Regions from separate parts of the Homo sapiens genome. Here region 2 is linked to region 1. The links come from fine-mapping of genetic effects on gene expression. A gene starts in region 1. The other region holds a variant in brackets. All regions are shown on one strand. Distances are between the middles of the regions. Region 1 holds the start of RNF128 (ring finger protein 128). Region 2 has its middle 36 kb from the start of RNF128.

Region 1 (8,000 bases):
AAGCAGTTATTTGAGAAAAGTACAACAAACATAGGAGGACCAAAAGATCTTTTTCCTGTTAAAATTCAGTCTACCCTCCGTACCTAAAGGGATCAAATTAGAATTTCAGGTAATGTGGACTTTGAAGTACTCTAGACTGTTCATTTCCAATTATGTTCTACAAACACAGGATTCAACTTTCATTTTCTAAAATATATTTAACTGTGATTAAAACATAATAGTAGCTTCCTATATGTCAGACACTGTGCTAAACGCTTTATCTGCATTATCTCATTGAATCCCAGCAACCTTAGGAGGCAAGTTTATTATTATGCCTACCTTACATAGGAGAAAACTGAGACTTAGAGAAGTAAAATAACTGGCCTAAGATTTAAAAAATACTAATTGGCAGAGCACAACCTCTTAACTAATCTGTTCCACTATCTTTCAACAATGTACACAAGCAACTGTGTTATATATCAAACTGTATCCCATTGGAGACCCCCAAATCATTAATTAAACTGCTTGGTTCATTCACTTTTTTTTTTTACAGCCCTCAGGAATAATGCTTCTCCTGACATCCCTTTGCATATGTTTTATGCATAACGTTGTAAATGTTTCATGAATTATGAAGGTTGTAGTTCTGCACCAGTCTTTCAATAAATTCATGCCTACAATGTTGACTCAAGGAAAATTGTACAAGCAAGTATACATATCTCTTCAACCTGTGGGTTGTGCTCAATTAGACACCAGGCAAAGCTCAGGCCCATCTGCCTGGCGTAAGCAGAACAGTTTGTTGTGCAATAGTGAGAACATGCTTAACGTGTCTCGTGACAATCTTACATTTTAGATGGTTTTAATGCTTACTTTAAGATTTGGCCACTTATCTGACTTTCATTTTTAAGATAAGAAATTTGAATAGTAATTACACTTTGGAATAAAAATTTTCTCCTAATTTCCTTTCAGGTTTCTGCACTGATTTGATTGAAATATATCCAGAGATTGCAAGCCAAACTGCCAATAAGCATCTGTCATTTGCAATTATTTATCTGTGTGAATCAGAATTTTCTGAATACTCTGCAAACAAAATACAGAAATAAACTGCATGAGTTGATGTTAGGCTACAATTAACTTTTGAAAAATTTTGGTATACATAAAAGTCTCATTTTCCTAATTGATTGCTCTTATATAGTGGAGTTTCTTTCTCCTAAACAAAAATTTTAAAGCAACTGTTCTAAATTAGTTAGGTGGGAATATAGACACTCAGCACAAACTCTAACCAAGGGCAAACAATTCAAGTGCAGGCCCCTATGAGAGTGAGTGAAGAGAGATTTTGTAAACAAAGAAGATACAGAAGGCTTTTCCACATTTGGTGGCCCCTTCGTAATTCACAGCAATATATAATGAACTAATCCATACTTAAATCTCAGTCCTATCTCTCTGCCACTATGATCCAAGATAAGTTTTTGACCAGAGGTTAAAAGGAAACCCTAGGCTTACTCTGAGGAATGAGTAAAGCAAACAATATAACACTTTGCAAACAAATATTCAATAACACATGTGGATAATATGCAGTGATTTTCCCCCTATATTGAAAAATAGTTTTTCCAGGAGTTCAAGGAGAAATGTGATTCCTTACCTCAAGTAATTTGCTGGTTTTATCTAGTTAGCTTGATGGCAAACTTTGGTATAGCCTTTATCTCAGATAATATTGTTTTTAAAGTATCAAAATGCTTTTCTGAATGTAGTGTAATTTAGTGATCAATATTTAGGGCTTTATTCCTATATGGTATCCTGAAACACAACACCCATAGTTAGATTCTCAGTGTATTCATGTCTTCAAATCGACAGTTGCACAATCATACATTTGTACATTATTTTTTTGCATCCTGTTAGCATTAACCTATTATAACATTCAGTGACTATTATCAGCTGGGTAGTATATATATATATAATCCTTAATAATCACAGCAACATAAATATTATCTCCATCTTACAGATGGGGTATCCAAGGCTCAGTAAAGTTAAATAATCCTACCAAGGACACAAAGCTATTGTGTGGTAAATCCAGAATTTTATTCCCAATCTTGACTAAAATGCCTGTGTTTTTCTTAGTACACCATATTGCCTCTCAATAAAGTATAAGTAATATGTATGTAGAGTGCCTGGCATATAGTGGGAGCCAAGCAAAAGTTAATTTTATTGTCTCCTAAAACTATCAGATAAATACCCTTAACAGAAGTAAAAGGAAAATGGTCTAAGTAGGACTCTGTAATTAAATACTCTTCAATTACAAATCATTCATGCAAATGAATCTCATTAGAAGACAAAGTCAAACCCTTGCTATTAGACAGTCAACTGAAATATAAAGACTATAAACTTTATTAGGTCTTTATTCTTGATTTTCAGTAACTTCTAAAAGCTACTGATTCATTCTAATCAATGAATTATCGGCCAAGAGAGATACAGTTTCTCCTTTAATCAATATAAAAACTAAAAATCATAGCATTTTAGATCTGAAAGGGATCTTAGAGTTCATCTACTTTTGTTTTGTTTCAGTACACGCTTCTAACTTGGCCTCCACTGCCTATACAATCATTTGACATGTGAGTAACTTGTACAAGGTTACAAAGTCGGTAGAGGCAAAGAAGGGGCTAAAAGAACTCAAATCTCCTGAGTTCCAATTCAGTGTTCTTTCCATTACGCCATCCAGCCACTCAATACAAGTGCTCTCTAGGCAGGTTCAGTCATAAGGTTTTAAGAAAAACAGAAAACCTCCAGTAGTCAAATAAGCAGCTTCTTCCTTCCAGTGACTCCCAGAAGGCTAATCCTATCAGCTAACCCTTACTGAGAGTGGATGATGTGCTTTACTGCACTAAACTCTTTAAGGCATTATTTCATTTTATCCTGAAGGCAAACTTGTGGATAAGTTTTCTTATTATTCATTCTCATTTGACTGATGAGAGAACCCAGACTCTAAGACTTGAAATAAGTTGCCCAAGGTCACAGGACTAGTAAGCAACAGAGTAGGAATTTAAACCAAGCTCTGACTTGAGGCCCAGCTCTTAAAAACTATGATACACTGCTATTACACGTGTCTCTTTCTTTTTCTCCATTTTTTTCCCCTTTGTCCTTTAGGGTCTAGGATAACTATATACATAAGGTATGGATACCTAATCACAAATAGGGAAGTTTGTGGAAGGATAACCGACGGGGAAAAATAGTAACCTCATACCATCTCCAAGAATTTAAGAACTACCTGGACTATTTTTTTTTCCAAAGTCTAGGCCTTTGCTATCCTCATGCAGAAACCTCTTCTTTTTCAAGAACGTTAGTCACCTGTTTTGCAACTCAATAACCTAAATCAGATTTTTCAGAAGCAAACAAAAGCACTGATACCAAGTCACTTGGGACTTGAGACCACTGGGCAGAGAAGAACCCAAGAACTAAGCAAAGTTTCCACCAAAATTGCAATGAGGTTAACAGGGCACAGTAGCACAATCTAGTATTTGATACCCAGGAAACATGGAGAGAAAAACAGGGAGAGGAGGGGAAAATCTGCTGCCAGTCTGAGGTTGTTAAAAAGCAGAGTGAGGAAGAGATTTCCAGGTGATCTCCTCGGTCATTTAAGACCCGATGCCCACCACCACTTAATCCAAGGCTAGACACCCTTGTGAAAAACCAGGAAAAGGGAACGCAAAGAGCTCAAACAGTCCTTGATTTGCCAGCCTCTGCACCCGGTTTGTTTTACCCTTTTCCACCAGAGAGGCAAATGAAGGATTTTTTTTTGCCCAACACCCAGGCCTGGTGAATCTCGGGGAGGACCCTGCCCCACTCCGTGGGGACAGAAAGAGCACCCACTTTCCTTCGGAGCAAGGGGATAGGACGAGGAGGGCAATGAGGAAAATAAGAGAAACTGGCCATGGCAGAGGTCTGGAGGGGTGCAATCTAGTAGCTGCACTCACCCGGGTGAGACATGGGGATGACCTCATTGCGGGTCCCGGGGAAGTTAAAGATGACGGCTCCAGACGCCCCTCTCTCATAAGCCAGATGGATCTTGTCTGCGAAGGTGCAGCCCCCGCCGCGTTGGATGAGGGCCAACCAAGAGACTTGCACGGTGCTTCCCCAAACCGTGGGCACCGTGAAATTCGTGTGCGGGTTACAGGCGTTAAGCGCCCCGGGCCCGTCGGGCGGTACCAGGACCCCAGCCACAGGCTCCAGCGGCGAGTCCTGGCCGTACACGCCCTCCTCGCTCAGCTCCCACACCGTACGGTTCACTCCCGTGTGCGGAACCCGCCAGGACACGTTGAGGTACGCGGTCCACACTGCTTCAGCCCCCCGGGAACCGGGTGCCTGCGGACTCAGGGCCAGCAGGAAGCACCATGCCAGCAATCTGGAAAAGCCGCAGCCACCGCGGCAGGAGACCCCGGCCCCAGGCGGCGGCCCCATGGCGCGCGCGCTCCGCAGTTCCCTAGCGCCCCTGGCACGCGCCCTCCTAGCGCTTGGCAGGACCCTGGTCTTGAGCAGGTGCGCGCCAGGTGGGGAAGGAATGGAGTGAGACTGGGGAGCTGCGAGCTACGTCGGAGCCAGGAGGCACGTAGCGTCAGCACACAGGTTGCCGCAGATGCAGCTCCTCGGAGCTCCAGTCTTCTCCGCTACCGCGGCTGCCGCGTCGGGCTCTGGGGCTTTAGCGTGAAGCTCCGCCCAGCCGACTGGGGGTAGAGGTGGCTGGGAGGGAGGAAAGGACACTGCGGGATCCGCCTCTTAAAAGGGTAACAGGATGGATCGATGTTAGAATAGGATCTGAGGCTGTGTGGCTAGGTGTGTCGCGTCGTTTTATAAAAAACGGACAGGCGAGGAACGATAAAGTCCGCAAACATAAAGCTTTCTGGCAGGATTCGAGTCGGTTTTGAATTGCAAGAATACATTTTTCCCTCCTAACATTTGCCTAAAGGACATTTCGGGCTTACGGTGCCAGAATGTGAAGTACAGTACTTCTAAAAAGCGCAGATCCAAAGGGTCTGAGTTGTAGTCAAGGGAATTTGGGTAGGGAAGGAATTTGAGTAGAATCAGGCTATTTACTGATTCTCTAGAGGGGGGAAGGGCAGGAAAAGCGCGCTGTTACCCTTTCTTACTGACTTCAAATGGCACCTTTCTCTTTCCCTGCTCCTAAGAAGCCTCATACATGTGTATTTCCTCACCGTTACCCTAGGTTTCATGTACCGCATCAGATGCCTCTTCTAAAACTAATTTTAGTCCTCACAAAAGAATGACTGTTTTCACACACCTCAGAACCAAGCCTTTCTTCTGCATTTTTCACAAACCTGACTTACCCTAGCGGATGTTCCTGCGCTATTCATGACCTTAACTACATAATCTTTCTCCATTTCCCACTAACTGAAAGGAGCCTGACTCGCCTAGGCGATTCACTCATGGCATTATTACATTACGATTTATCCTTGCTTAAGTATTCAATTTTTGTCTACCCTGTCAACTATTATATTTACTAGATGGTTAACAAATGAGCCTTGAATTAAGCTGAATTAATATACCTGCTGTCTGATAGTTATGAATAACTTTTGACCTTGGGGAACTTCCCTGTGGCTCAGTTTCCTCATCATCTGTAAAAGGGGGATAATAATTGCACCTACCTCACAGAGTTTTCAGATGATTAAATGAGTTAATACATGTAATAAAGCACTTAGAACAATGCTTAGCAATATAAAAAACATGTTAAAATTATTAAACAGGTTCAGAGACACAATTCTAAAATAATATTAAAGTTTTAATTTGAGGTAATATCAGAGAAAATGATGTTCAAGATGTTCAGTCTTAGCCACTTTTTCAGTTCAAATAAATACAGTCTACTTTATGCAGCTCAACATTTGTTAAATTTCTGATCAATTACTCCCCTCAATCCCTGGCCCAGCATTTACTTAATCAATGTTATTTACAAAGATTAAGCATGGACCAATTCTGTACTTGATACTCTTATGGCTTGAGAGAAACCTAGAGGAAAATTAACATCATATACCAAACAACACCTAGAACATAAATAAATGTGCAATTTTGTGAAACATATACTCTTAGGTATTGAAAAGGACTTTAGAGGTCAAAGTGGGTATATGAGACCAATAGCATGGTACCCCCAAATACTGATGGTAATCTCTGAGATAAAAATTACCTAGGGGAAAAATGGGTAGGACCAACCACCTCTGAGAAATGGTACAATTCCAGAAATTGTCTGATTTTGCTGGTGAAGAGCATTCAAAATTCAATTGATATTACCTGAATGACAGCCAACTATATTGTACTTTGAAGAAACAATGTGTTCAGAAGAAAGAAGGTATTTTATAGCTACAAAAATGAAGTTCAGAGAGACATTTATTAATGTTTTTCCATTCATTATTTTCTTAAATATTTGTTGTACATCTGCCATAAGCCATGGGCTGAGCATTGTGGTGCAAAATCAAATAAGACATCAACTCTCCTATCAAGAAGCTCATAAATTAGTTTTGATGAGAAGGACAAGTAAAATGGAAAGTGCAGTATAGAGTGATATATGTATATAGTGTAAGCACTATGATGGAGATATGACAGGGTAGTAGTGGATAACAGAGAAGCACCTAACCCAGACTGAGAAGTAAGGAAAAGCTTCCCAGAGGAGGTTAGACCTGGGCTGAGTTTGAGACAGTAAACTTTTCTAGGCAGAAAACAACACAAGGAAAGGCATTGAAATATGAAAAAGAAATGTTAGGAAGCTACAATTACTACAGGCCCAGTAAATGCAAAATGGTTGGAACCTAAAGTAACAGAGGGAGGGTGGTAACAGATCATGTTGGAGAGGTACATGGGGGCCAGTTCTTGAGAGTCCTTTGGGTAAAGCTAGGGAGTTTAGACTTTATCCAAAAACGAGGAGTAATATAATCAGGGTTTAATCAGGGAGTAATAGAATCAGATCTGAAGTTTAGAGATCCTTCTCTGTGGATAATAGATTGGAGGGAATGAGAATAGCAGCAGGGAGCCCATACAGAAGATGGTTGGCAGTGCTACAGGTGAGAGATGAAGATGGCTTGGATAGACAGGTAGTGGACATGAAGAGAAGTGGGCAGAATGGGAATGTTCTTTGGTGGTAGAATCAACAGGACTTGGTTTGGGGGATGAAAGAGAAGGAGGAGTTAGAAATTACTCTGAGGTTTTTGACTTGGAAGACTAGATGACATTCAATCAGGGAATACAGGAGGAGGGTTTTAAATGTATAGAATGGGTAGAAGGAGAGATGAGTTCACTTTAGATATGTCGATTTTGAGGTGCCTATGATGTAACCAGGTAGAACTGTGTGATAGGCAGTTGAGTTTCCGATCACTGAACACCTACTAAGTGCAAAGCATGGGAGAGACAGGGGTGTAGAGAGACAAAAGAAACAGCCCTTGCCTTCAATGAGCTCATGGTCTAGTGAGACAATCAGAGAGATAAACTATCAATAACAGTACAGTGTAATACATGTTATGACTGAGAAAAGTATAAGGCGCTAGGGCAAGACAAGTGTGACTGAGTCTTTAAGTACAAATGGAGTGACCCAAGCAAAGAGAGTAAGGATTTTCAGGCACAGGCAAGAGTATATTATATGAGAACTCCAAAGAACATTCAGGGAACTAGCATTCAGTAGTTCGGTATGGTTGGGATATAAAGTTGCAAAGGTGGAGCCAAGGGAAGTGAAGCTAGTCAAATAACTTGTGCCAGAACATGAAAAGTTTAGAAAATTATACATACATACATATATATATATATATTTTAGACAGAGTTTTGCTCTTGTTGCCCAGGCTGTAGTGCAATGGCATGATCTTGGCTCACTGCAACCTCTGCCTCCCAGGTTTAAGCGATTCTCCTGCCTCAGCCTCCCAAGTAGCTGGAATTACAGGCGCGTGCCACCATGCCCGGCTAATTTTTGTATTTTTAGTAGAGACGGGGTTTCACCATGTTGGCCAGGCTGGTCTCGAACTCCTGACCTCATGATCTGC
Region 2 (11,864 bases), 36 kb after region 1:
TTAACACCCTCTTAGTAGGATGCCCTGTGGTTTTCCATGGTGTGTGCTCTTCCAATTGCTGCAACAAGTAATAAATCTACCTTTTTAAACTACAGGTCTGTTGCTAGCGGTCTTTGGCTGGAGAGCACTGACATTAGAAAGAAGCAGAGAGACACAACATTGTGGAAGTGCTTAGTAAGACCTAGTACAGGATAATGGGACTGAAGGAATGAAGAGGTAGGGGGAGCCAGAGAAGAGTAGAAGAGTACAAGGGCCTGAGGGGGCTACAGTGTGATTTTCTGAAAAGGTGGTTTTTAGGGGGTAATACAAGATGAGATGACAGAAGGTGAAATCGTGAGCTTTATTGTAGGAGGATTTCCCCCATCCTCTGTGTCAAAACAAAACAAAACACGAGTGAAAAGACAGCAACAACAAACAAAATGTTGGCATAAAATAATGACAGTCTTTAATGATCTAGTGTCTGGTCATCTAGTTTTCATATCCACACTTGATTCCTTATGTTTGTCAGCTGCATCACTGAATAGTTTTTATATAAAGGAAATTTCTAGGAAGGAAAAAATCCAATGGCACACTATTTGGCAGGTCTTAAAAGGGCAAAATTCCAAATTTAGTTTTAATTCTTTGGGGTTGATATCATCATATGTTAAAAAACAATGTTCATTAAATAAACACACTATAACAGTGCCTGAAATATAGTAAATGCCAGTAAATGTTAACTATCACAGTTATGATCATTATGCTATCTTTTTCAATGTGTTTATTTTAAAATAGGTGCAATACTGTAGCTTTAAAATATTTTTGATCATGTGTCTTTGGTTATATTGGAGGTATATATTGAATGATAAGTCTAACTGCCTCCTTTTTAAAACTCTGTTCAGAGTCACATATTCAAATGATTATGCACATGTTTCTTTTGGAGAGATTTACTGTGAGTGATCTTTGGTAAATATTTCAAATTTACTGGCAGGGTACCTACATTCTACTAGATATTGGTCCCTAATACAGGTTGCAAAGAAAGTTTTGAAAACAGGACTACTATTTAGTTTGATACTGTTTGTATTTCAAAAATAGCAGGAGAGTGAATAAGTAGAATGTGTTCATGCAAAAGGAAACCCAGAGTATTCAGGATCTCTAAGTTTAAATGTATAGCAAGTTGGTTCCTTAGAACAGATTTAATTCCTAAGTTTTATCAGAAAATGGCATTAGTTTCTTTCTACAAAAATGAAAGTCACTCGTAAAAACACAGGAACAGGCAGGGAATGCTTATGAAATGCTCTTAGCTAGAAAATAATATAAAATGTGAATGTCTGAGCTCTTGCAGTGTCCAGGATGTGTCACAAAAGGTAGCACATGGAGTTTTGTTACATCTACAATAATTTTGTACTGCTGAAGTTCATCTTACTTGTTTTTTTGATGCTTAGCGAAATAAGCAGTTTGGTTTTCAAATATTAGTACCAAACAGTGATATTGTATGTGTACAACTTGGAACATTCCAAGCACCATACTATTCTTAACATAAGTTTGATTTTCTCCTTTTCATAATTCTAAAATCTGTTTAATTTAATTTGCATTAATTTTCTTAGAGGCCAAATTTGGCAATAACACCAATTATCAAAATTTTGTATTCATTTACTGTCAGCGCTTGCCTTGATTGAAATTATTCCTTTTTTTTTTTAGACCAAGTCTGATAAAAACACACATACCTATCCACAGTGAACAAAATGGGGTTCAGAAGTTTACTTCTTCATTGGTTTAAAAATCTATTTACTTGGAAACTGTTTTTTTAAATAAATAAAAACCAGTGATTTTCAGAAGTAACTCCTTTAAAAAGTTAATAAATTAGAAGTTTCTATTTACTTAAGAAGCCATTAGTAAATATTTCTAAGGGAAATCTTTATTTTCTTTGTTAATTACAGTGTTATCCTATTTCTGCCATACACTTTTCAATGGGTAATATCACGTTTTTGCAGATTCGTTTGTATCAGTCCCGCAAAAAGATTCAAATCTTACAAGCATACAGTAGAGTCAAGTTCTCATTTCTATAACATTTTACACACTTATAATATGCTATTATTTAAGCATAATGAAACTGTTTTGCAGTTTCACAAACTTGAAAACATACAATCCCTTTTGCAGGAGAAAATAAATCAAACTGAGAAGTGCAAATTAATAATGAAATTAAATTTTTTAATGTTTAGAGGTAAAGGCACAGTTTATTAAAAAGCAACTCACGATATAATGCCCACTGAGGAAACTTATATTGCTAAGAAAACATGAAAGAAAATAGGAATCACTTCATGAATTGCTACTGTCTTTGGAACAAATTAATTAAAAATATTAAATAATAATAAAGTAATTACAAGTTGTGCCAGGCAAGAAAATTTAAAGTAAAATTATTTTACAACCTTGTTGCCAGATCCTAGACCAGTTCTAGATGGAAATACCATTCTAAGATAAACGGACATTAACTCTCTTTGTGAATCAATTATTACTTACCAAAATTTGCCATCTGTATCGTCTGATTGCCAGTCTCTGGAGCATTGTAAATCACAACAGCATCAGCATTTCTTCTGCCCGCTGTTTGAATTTTTTCTGAAAATGTACAATTACCTCTTTCTATCAGCGCAATCCAGGGCTTCTTAGTATTACTAAACTCAGTGTTGTGGTCACAAGCTTGGTAGTTATTGTTCTTAGGGATGCCTACCACTCCCATAGCATTAGCCACTGGTGAAGCTAATCCATAAACGCCACATTCACATGTCTCTATTGCAGTGTAGTTGCTGGTTTCATTGTAATAAGTCACAGTCACATAGGCACTCATTGAAAAAGATGCTGTAATTTTAAGTAAAAAGGTAAAAATTACAAGGAGCCAAAAAAAACTGGACCTATTCTCCTGGTTCATTGCTCATTCATTTGAGTATAAAATTTAAGATGTTTGCTGATATTTCCAACTATCAGTCACCATTGTCCACTCACGTCCCTGCTGAACAGAAGTTTGAAATTTCAGTTGCACGTAGGTAACTGATCTCACCTCTAGCAACATAACCTCTGGATACATCAGCTCTATTTCACTTTAGTTATCTACATTCCCCTTTGCTTGCCCCTCCTCCAGCTGTACACACAGGTAACCCTTAACCAGGACTACCTTAGTAATAAATAACACCATCAACTTTATTCTACATGTCAACTTATTAGGATTGGATGACTTCCTGCAGTACATTTTTTTTTCTTCTTACTGTTCCAACTAATGCACTTTCATAAACATGGAGTGGATTGGAAAGAGGAACTGGACTCTGGGGAATCCCACGTGACAAGGCTGAAAGTTACCTCTCTCAGAATATCTAAAACACTAAACTGGTTTGCCAAGCCCTGCTGAAATATGCTATCAACCAGTTCAGCCTGGAGTAAGTTAAGATCCATGAGTTTAATTGCTATGGCATTAGTAGAATGAATTTTATTGCTTTTTTCTCTTCTAATTTCTCTCTCTCTCTCTCTCTCTCTCTCTGTGTGTGTGTGTGTGTGTGTGTGTGTGTGTGTGTGTGTTTTCTTAGCAGGCTCCCCAAGGGATATCCTCTGTTACCTTGTTTATTCGTTGGAAAACAAACATATTTCAGTAGCTAGAATTCCTTTCCTTTCAAGTATAGTGCCTTGCCCATGGCAGGCACTCAAATATTTGTTGATTGATTGATACCTGCAAGTTGCTGCATTCCATTAATTTTTGTGCCCCA[T/C]GTGTTATACTCTAAAAAAGGTTGTTGAAGGTTTAATTTTTAACATTTACATTTTTAAATTTTTAGTTCTCCCAGATGTATAGACAACTTTATTTGTTTCATTGCTTCCTTTAGTTCAAGCTCTGTTTTTATTCAGGAGCACACTGGACACTAAGAGCATTAGGACACATACGCTACGGGGTCAACTGGTCTGTGAAAATTGCTGGGATGGGGAGATTGCAATGTGTGCCAAGGGCTGATGAAGGAATAGATGAACGAACAAGACAAACAGAGATATCAGGAGTCTGACTGGGCCAAGAGTCAGCAAACTAGACAAACAGGCATCAGGCTTCCAGGGAAGCAAAAAGCTACCAGGTCAAAAGGAAGGTAGGGACAATGGTAGTCCAAGGTCCAAGTCAGGTAATCTGGAATCAGGAAGGTTTACTAGAGTCAAGGGGACAGGACAACCGAAAATAAAAAAATAGGAGACGTTGTTGATGGAGGTGGTCAATGAAGCTGTTTCTTCTCCCTACTTCTTGTCCGCTTTTAAACATCTGAAATATCAGTGTTGGAGTGGACCCTGCAGGTGAGAATTAACAGTTCACACCACTCAGCAGAGGGAAGGAGTTCAGGGAATCAGCAGCAGAACCTGCTGAATAAATCCCAGCAGATGTATAATACAAATATGAACCTTGCTATCATATCATAGCTGCCAATTACTCATTAGCGTACCCTCCCATAGTACCTGGTACTACTAGCATCATACACCTAGTAACAGCCTAATAATTCATATAATTGAACTGAAAAGATTAAAGGTCTTGTGTATTAGCTTATGGTCAATTTAAGAGTAAACACAAATAGTTCATTATTTTGCTACTAGCCCTATCATTTTGATGTGTTTTTAGGATCACAATAAAGCCTGTATTCACCAGAGAAAATTATCAGACTAAAAACAGAAATGTTATTATTGTTATTATAAATGTTGTCAAAACCATTAGCTTAGAGATTGCTGATGGACAGTCTTTTGTGATAAATTCAACATCAACATTCAACATTTAAATAATTAGTAAAATCCCAGAAATTTGATCTATCCTTTTCTGCCAATTAAATTACTCCTTAAAAAATCTTCTCATGAAAAACTTTAAAAGCAGATTAATGAGAAGTTACCTAAATCCATTAGAAGTCAAATTTTAAAAAATAATATTTCTTTGTTTATCTTAAGATTTCTTTTCATTATTTTGTGTAGGGATTTTTTCTTAGTTACATGATCATATTTATATATTTTTAAATTAGTTTTTCATTTAATATCTCAGTCATTATATATTTTATCTTATAATCTTTGTAGACAATGCTTTGTTGGATAAATGATATTCCATTAATGGAAATACCTCGGTTTACTTAGTCATTCCATTTTTGTTTGGTCAAAATTTTAAATAATATTTTTGCTATTATCATTTTGTTATAATAACTTTTTCTGTGTTTAAGATTATATCCTAACAGTTTTTTTCAGTGGATTTAATAGGTTGAAGTTTTGAACATTTAAAAAATCTTAACACATTTTACGTATTCAGGAAACAATTCAGGATAAAAATACACTAAGGAAAAGCTCTCCTGCCTCATTTCTCCTCCCATGTCTCCAGGGTAGTTACCAGAGGCTGGGAAGGGAAGGAGGAGGGAGGGATGAAGAGAAGTTGGTTAATGGGTACAAGAATACAGTTAGCTAGAAGGAAGAAGTTCTAGTATTCGATAGTACAGAAGGGTGAATATAGTTAGCAACAGTGTATGGTATATTTCAAAAACAGTTAGAAGAGAAGAATTGTAATGATCCCAACACAAAGAAAAGATAAATGTTTGAGGTGATGGATATCCCAATTACCCTGATTTTATCGATATACATTGCATGTGTCAAAATGTCACATGTACCCCATAAATATGCACAACTATAATCTATCAATAAAAAATACAAAAAGGCCAGGCACAGTGGCTCATGCCTGTAATCTCAGCATTTTGGGAGGTAGAGGCGTGCAGATTGCTTGAGCCCTAGAGTTTGAGACCACACTGGGCAACATGATGAAACCCCATCTCTATCAAAAAAAAAATAGCTGGTGTGGCGGTGTGCATCTGTGGTCCCAGCTACTCGGGAGGCTGAGGCAGGAGGATTGCTTGAGCCTGGGAGGTCGAGGATGCAGTGAGCTGAGATTGCACCACTGCACTTCAGCCTGGGTGACAGAGTGACTCTGTCTCAAAAAACAAAACAAGACAAAACAAAACAACCCAAGAAGGCACCATTCAATAAATGGTGATGGGACAATTGGCTAGTCAGTTAAAGAAGGAAAATAATCAGTTTGCTCCTCATTTCCTCCTCACAAAACACCCAAATAAATTACAGTTGGATTAAGTAATAATGTTTTTTGAAAAATTAAGAATTTTTTAAAACCAGCAGACACAGACCTGGGTATTTATTAAACCTTGTGAAAGGGAAAAGACTGTCATATCAGTGGAAAAAATTAAAGTGGAACATTTGCTCACTCAACAATATTGAACTATTTTAAATAGGCAGTGATACATTGGGGAAATATTTGTAGCAAATGCCCCAAAGGTATTTTATTACATGTTATTAAAGATCTTATACCCATGGAAAGCAAAGCAAATTAAAGAATAATATGCATACTATGACTTTCTTTTGGTAATAAAACCAAGCCTTCTTTGCATCTTTACAAAGAAGTGTAATTGTATGCACAAACAAGGAGAAAGGTAGGAAGACACACCCAGGCCTTTACCACTGGCTCCCTGTTAAATAATCTGAACATACTAGTTTCAAATCTTGACATATTTTTGCACAAGTTAAATCATTAAGTTCTGAAAAAAGGACAACTTGGATGGGTGCAGTGGCTCATGCCTGTAATCCCAGCACTTTGGGAGGCTGAGGCTGGCGGATTGCTTGAGCTCAGGAGTTCGAGACCAGCCTGGGCAACAAGACAAAACCCCGTCTCTCTATATATATATTTTAAAAAAATACAAATAAAATAAATTTTAAACAATGACAACTTTCCCATAACATCTTGTGCCAGTGTTGGTGTAATAAGAGAACATTCCTAAGCTATTATGTTACATTGCACTGGAGGTTGAAGTACATAACTTAAACTTGAAAATAAAATTTTTGTGTGTGGGTAGGTGTATTCATGGGGAACATGAGATATTTGAATACAGGCATGCAATGTGTAAAAATCACATCAGGGCAAATGGGATATCCATCACCTCAAGCATTTATCTTCACTTTGTGTTATAAACAATCCAATTATACTCTTCTGGTTATTTGTAAATGTACAACAAATTGTTCCTCTGTTGTGCTATCAAATACTAGATCTTATTCATTCTATCTAACTATATTTTTGTACCCAACAACCATCCCTGCTTCTTCCCTCTGCACTACTCTTGCAGGCCTTGTAACCAACCTTTATCTTTCTATATCCATGAATTCAATTGTTTTAATTTTTATCTTCCACAAATAAGTGAGAACATGCAAAGTTTGTCTTTCTGTGCCTGGCTTATTTCACTTAACATGATGATCTCCAGTTCTACCTATGTTGTTGCAAATGACAGAATCTTATTCTTTTTTATGGCCAAATAGTGCTCTATTATGTACATATACCACATTTTCTTTATTCATTCGTCTGTTGATGGACGCTTAAGTTGATTCCAAATCATGGTTATTGTGAATAGTGCTGCAATAAACATAGGGGTATAGATATATCTTCGATATGTTGAGTTCCTTTCTTTTGTATGTAGACCTAACAGTGGGATTGCTGGATCTTATGGCAGTTCTAGTTTAGTTTTTTGAGTAACCTCCAAACTGTTCTCTATAGTAGTTGTATCAGTTTACATTTCTACCAACATTATATGAAAGTTCTCTTTTCTCCACATCCTCATCAGTATTAATTATTGCCTGTCTTTTGGATAAAAGCCATTTTAACTGGGGTAAGATGATATCTCATTGTAGCTTTGTTTTGTATTTCTCTGATGATCAGTGATGTTGAGCACATTTTCGTGAATCTGCTTGCCATTTGTATGTCTTCTTTTGAGAAATCTTTTATCAGATCTTTTGCCCATTTTGATTGGATTATTAGATTTTGTCCTGTAAGTTGCTTGTGTTCCTTATATATTTTGGTTATTAATCCCTAGTTTATAGATGAATAGTTTGCAAATATTTTCTCCCATTTTGTGAATTGTCTCTTCACTTTGTTGATTGCTTCCTTTGCTGTGCAGAAGCTTTTTAACTTGATGTGAACTCATTTGTCCATTTTTTATTTGATTGCCTGTGCTTGTAGAGTATTACTGAAGAAATCTTTGCCCTGTCCAATGACCTGGAGAGTTTCCCCAATGTTTTCTTGCAGTAGTTTCAGAGTTTGAAGTCTTAGATTTAAGTCTTTAATTGATTTTGATTTGATTTTTGTATATGGTGAGAGATAGGGTCTAGTTTTATTCCTCTGCGTATGGATATCCAGTTTTCCCATCACCATTTATTGAAGAGACTGTCCATTCCCCAATGTAGGTTCTTGGCATATTTGTTGAAAATGAGTTCACTTTAGATGTATGGATTTATTTCTGGTTTGTCTATTCTGTTCCTTTGGTCTCTGTGTCTGTTTTCATACCAGTGCCATGCTGTTCTGGATACTATAGCTGTGTAGTACAATTTGAAGTCAGGTAATGTGATTCCGCCAGTTTTGTTCTTTTTGTTCATGATCACTTTGGCTATTCTGAATCTTGTGGGGTTTTATATAAATATTAGGAATTTTCATTTTCTCTTTGTGAAGAATGTCATTGGTATTTTAGTAGGGATTGTGTTGAATCCCATAGATCGCTTTGGGTATTGTGGACATTTTAACAATATTGGTTCTTCCAATCCATAAACATGGACTATCTTTTCTTTTTTTTTGGCCTCTTCAATTTCTTGAGTCAATGTTTTATAGTTTTCATTTTAGAGGTATTTTATTTCTTTGATTAAGTTTACTCCTCTGTATTTTATTTTGTTTTTAGCTTTGCTAAGTGGAATAAATTTTTTGGTCTCCTTTTCAGATTGTTTGCTATCAGCATATAGAAATGCTACTAACTTTTTTATGTTGATTTTGTATCCTGCAACGTTACTGAATTTATTTATCTGTTCTAGTAGTTTTCGGTGGAATCTTTAGATTTTCCTACTACAAGATCATATCATCAGCAAAGAAGGATAATTTGACTTTTTCCTTGCCAATTTAAATGCCCTTTATTTCTTTCTCTTGTCTGATTGTTTTAGGTAGGATTCTCAGTACAATGTTGAATAATGGTGAAAGTGGGCATCCTTGTCATGTTCCAGATCTTAGAGGAAATACTTTCAGTTTTTCCCCATTCAACATGATACTTGCAATGGGTCTGTTATATATAGCTTTTATTGTGTTGAGGTATGTTCTTTCTATATGCAGTTCTCTGAGGGTTTTTATCATGAAGCGATGTGAACTTTATCATAATGTTTTTCAGCATCAATTGAAATGATCATGTGGTTTTTGTCCTTTATTCTGTTGATATGATGTATCACATTGATTGACTTTTGTGTGTTGAGCCATCCTTGCATCCTTGGGATAAATCCCTCTTAGTCATGATGAGTGAACTTTTTAATGTGTTGTTAAATTTGGTTTGCTAGTATTTTGTTGAGGATTTTTGCATCAATATATATCAGGGATATTGACCTGTAGTTTTCTTTTTGTTGATTTATCTTTCCCTGGTTTTGGTATCAAGTTAATACTGACCTCATAGGAGTTTGGAAGTATTCCCTCTTTCTCTGTTTTATGGAATAGTTTGAGTAGAATTGGTATTAGTTCTTCTTAAATATTTGGTAGAACTCAGCAGTGAAACCATTTGGTCTCCTGTTTTCCTTTACTGGGAAAATTTTTATTATGGCTTAGGTCTCGTTACTTGTTATTGGCCTGTTAAGGTTTTGGATTTCTTCATTGTTCAATGTTGGAAGGTCGTATAAGTCTAGGAATTTAGCCATTTCTTCTAAGTTTTCCAATTTATTGGCATATAATTGCTCATAGCAGCCTTAAATGATCCTTCAAATTTCTGTAGTATCAGTTGAAATGTTTCCTATTTTCACCTCTGATTTTATTTATTTGTATCTTCCCTCTTTTTTTCTTAGCTAGTTTAGCTAAAGATTTGTCAATTTTATTTATCTTTTGAAAAAAACGAGTTTTTGTTTCATTGATGTTTCGTATTTCTGTAAATTTCATTTTCATTTATTTCTGCTCTGATCTTTATTACTTTTCTGTACCAATTTCAGATTTTGTTTGCTCTTGCTTTTCTAGTTCTTTAAGATGTATTGTTAGGTTGTTTATTTGAAGTTTTCCTACTTTTAAAATGTAGGTGCTTACTGCTATAAACTTTCCTCTTAGCACTGCTTTTGCTGTATATGATACATTTTGATATGTTGTATTTCTATTATCATTTGTTTCAATACATTTTTCGTTTTGTTCTCAGTTTCTTCATTGACCCATGGGTCATTCAGGAGCATATTATTTAATTTCTATATGATTGTATAGTTTCAAAAATTCCTCTTGTTACTGATATCTAGTTTTATTCTATTGTGGGCAGAAAATATATTTGATATAATTTCATTATTTTTTGAATTTTAAAAACTTGTTTTGTGGACTAATATATGGTCTATCATTGAGAACGATCCACGTGGTGAGGAGAAGAATGTGTATTCTGCAGCCATTGGATGAAATGTCCTGTAAGTATCTATTAGGTCCATTTGGTCTATAGTGCAGATTAAGTTCAATGTTTCTTTGTTGATTTTCTGCCTGGAAGATCTGTCTAATGCTGAATGTAGGGTGTTGAAGCCTCTAGCTATTATTTTTTGAGGTCTTTCTGTCTTTAGCTCTAATAATATTTATTTTATATATCTAGATACTCTAGTGTTGGGTGCATATACATTTACAATTGTTATATCCTCTTTCTGAATTGACCCCTTTATCATTATGTAATGATCTCTGTCTCTTCTTACAATTTTTGTCTTGAAATATATTTTGTCTAATGTAAGGATAGCTACTCCTGCTCTTTTTTGGGTTTCCTTTGGCAGGGAATATATTTTTCTATCCCTTTATTTTCAGTCTACATGTGTCTTTAGAGGTAAAGTGTGTTTTTCATAGATAGCAGATAATCGGGTCTTGTTTTTTGTTTCATCCATTCAGCCATTGTCTATCTCTTGATTGGAAAGTTCAGTTCATTTATATTCAATCTTATTATTGATAATTAAGGGCTTACTCTTGACACTTAGTTATTTGTTTTCTGGTTGTTTTGTGGTCTTCTCTTCCTTCTTTCCTTCATTGCTGTGTTCCCTTTAGTAAAGGTGATTTTCTCTGGTGTTATGACTTCTTGATTTTTATTTTTTGTGTACTTGTTGTAGGTTTTTTAATTTGAGGTTGCCACGAGGCTTGCAAATGATATTTTATAACTAATTATTTTAAACTGATAACTACTTAACACTGATTGCATAAATAAACAAACAAACAAGCAAAGAGAAAACTGATAAAACTCTATACTTTAACTTCATCCTCCCATGTTTTAACTTTTTGTTTTTTCTATTTATATTTTATTATACTATCTATTTCTTGAAAAGTTGTTGTAGTTTTTATTTTTGGTAGGTTCATCTCTTAGTCTTTCTACTCAAGATATATGTAGTTTAGATACCACAAATACAGTGTTATAATATTTTGTGTTTTTCTGTGTACTTACTATTACCAGTGAGTTTTGTCTCTTCAGATGATTTCTTATGACTCATTAACATCCTTTTCTTTTGGATTGAAGAACTCCCTGTAGCATTTTTCACAGGACAGGTCTGGTGTCAATGAAGTCCCTCAGCTTCCGTTTGTTTGGGAAAGTCTTTATTTCTCCTTCATGTTTTAAGAATATTTTATCTGGATAGTCTATTCTAGGATGAAAGTTTCTTTCCTTCAGTACTTTAAATATGTCATGCTACTCTCTCCTGGCTTGTAAGGTTTCCACTGAAAAGTTTGCTGCCAGGCATATTGGAGCTCCTTGGTATGTTAGTTGTTTATTTTCTCTTACTGCTTGTAGGATCCTTTCTTTATCCTTGACCTTTGGAAATTTATTACTTAATGCGTT

The links.
Region 2: its variant is fine-mapped to the expression of RNF128 in lung (TOPMed, PIP 0.94).

The regions. Positions count from the first base shown.
Region 1 is chrX:106,723,342-106,731,341 of GRCh38, reverse strand. RNF128 (ring finger protein 128) reads right to left here and starts at 4,641. Exons shown (of 7, transcript NM_194463.2): 1 at 3,945-4,641. The coding sequence starts at 4,428. RefSeq lists an enhancer at 4,206-4,794.
Region 2 is chrX:106,685,041-106,696,904 of GRCh38, reverse strand. It overlaps a transcript of RNF128 not described here. Among named protein-coding and RNA genes, the nearest start is that of RNF128, 36 kb to the left of the region's middle. The variant T/C (reference allele first, on the strand shown) is at 3,729.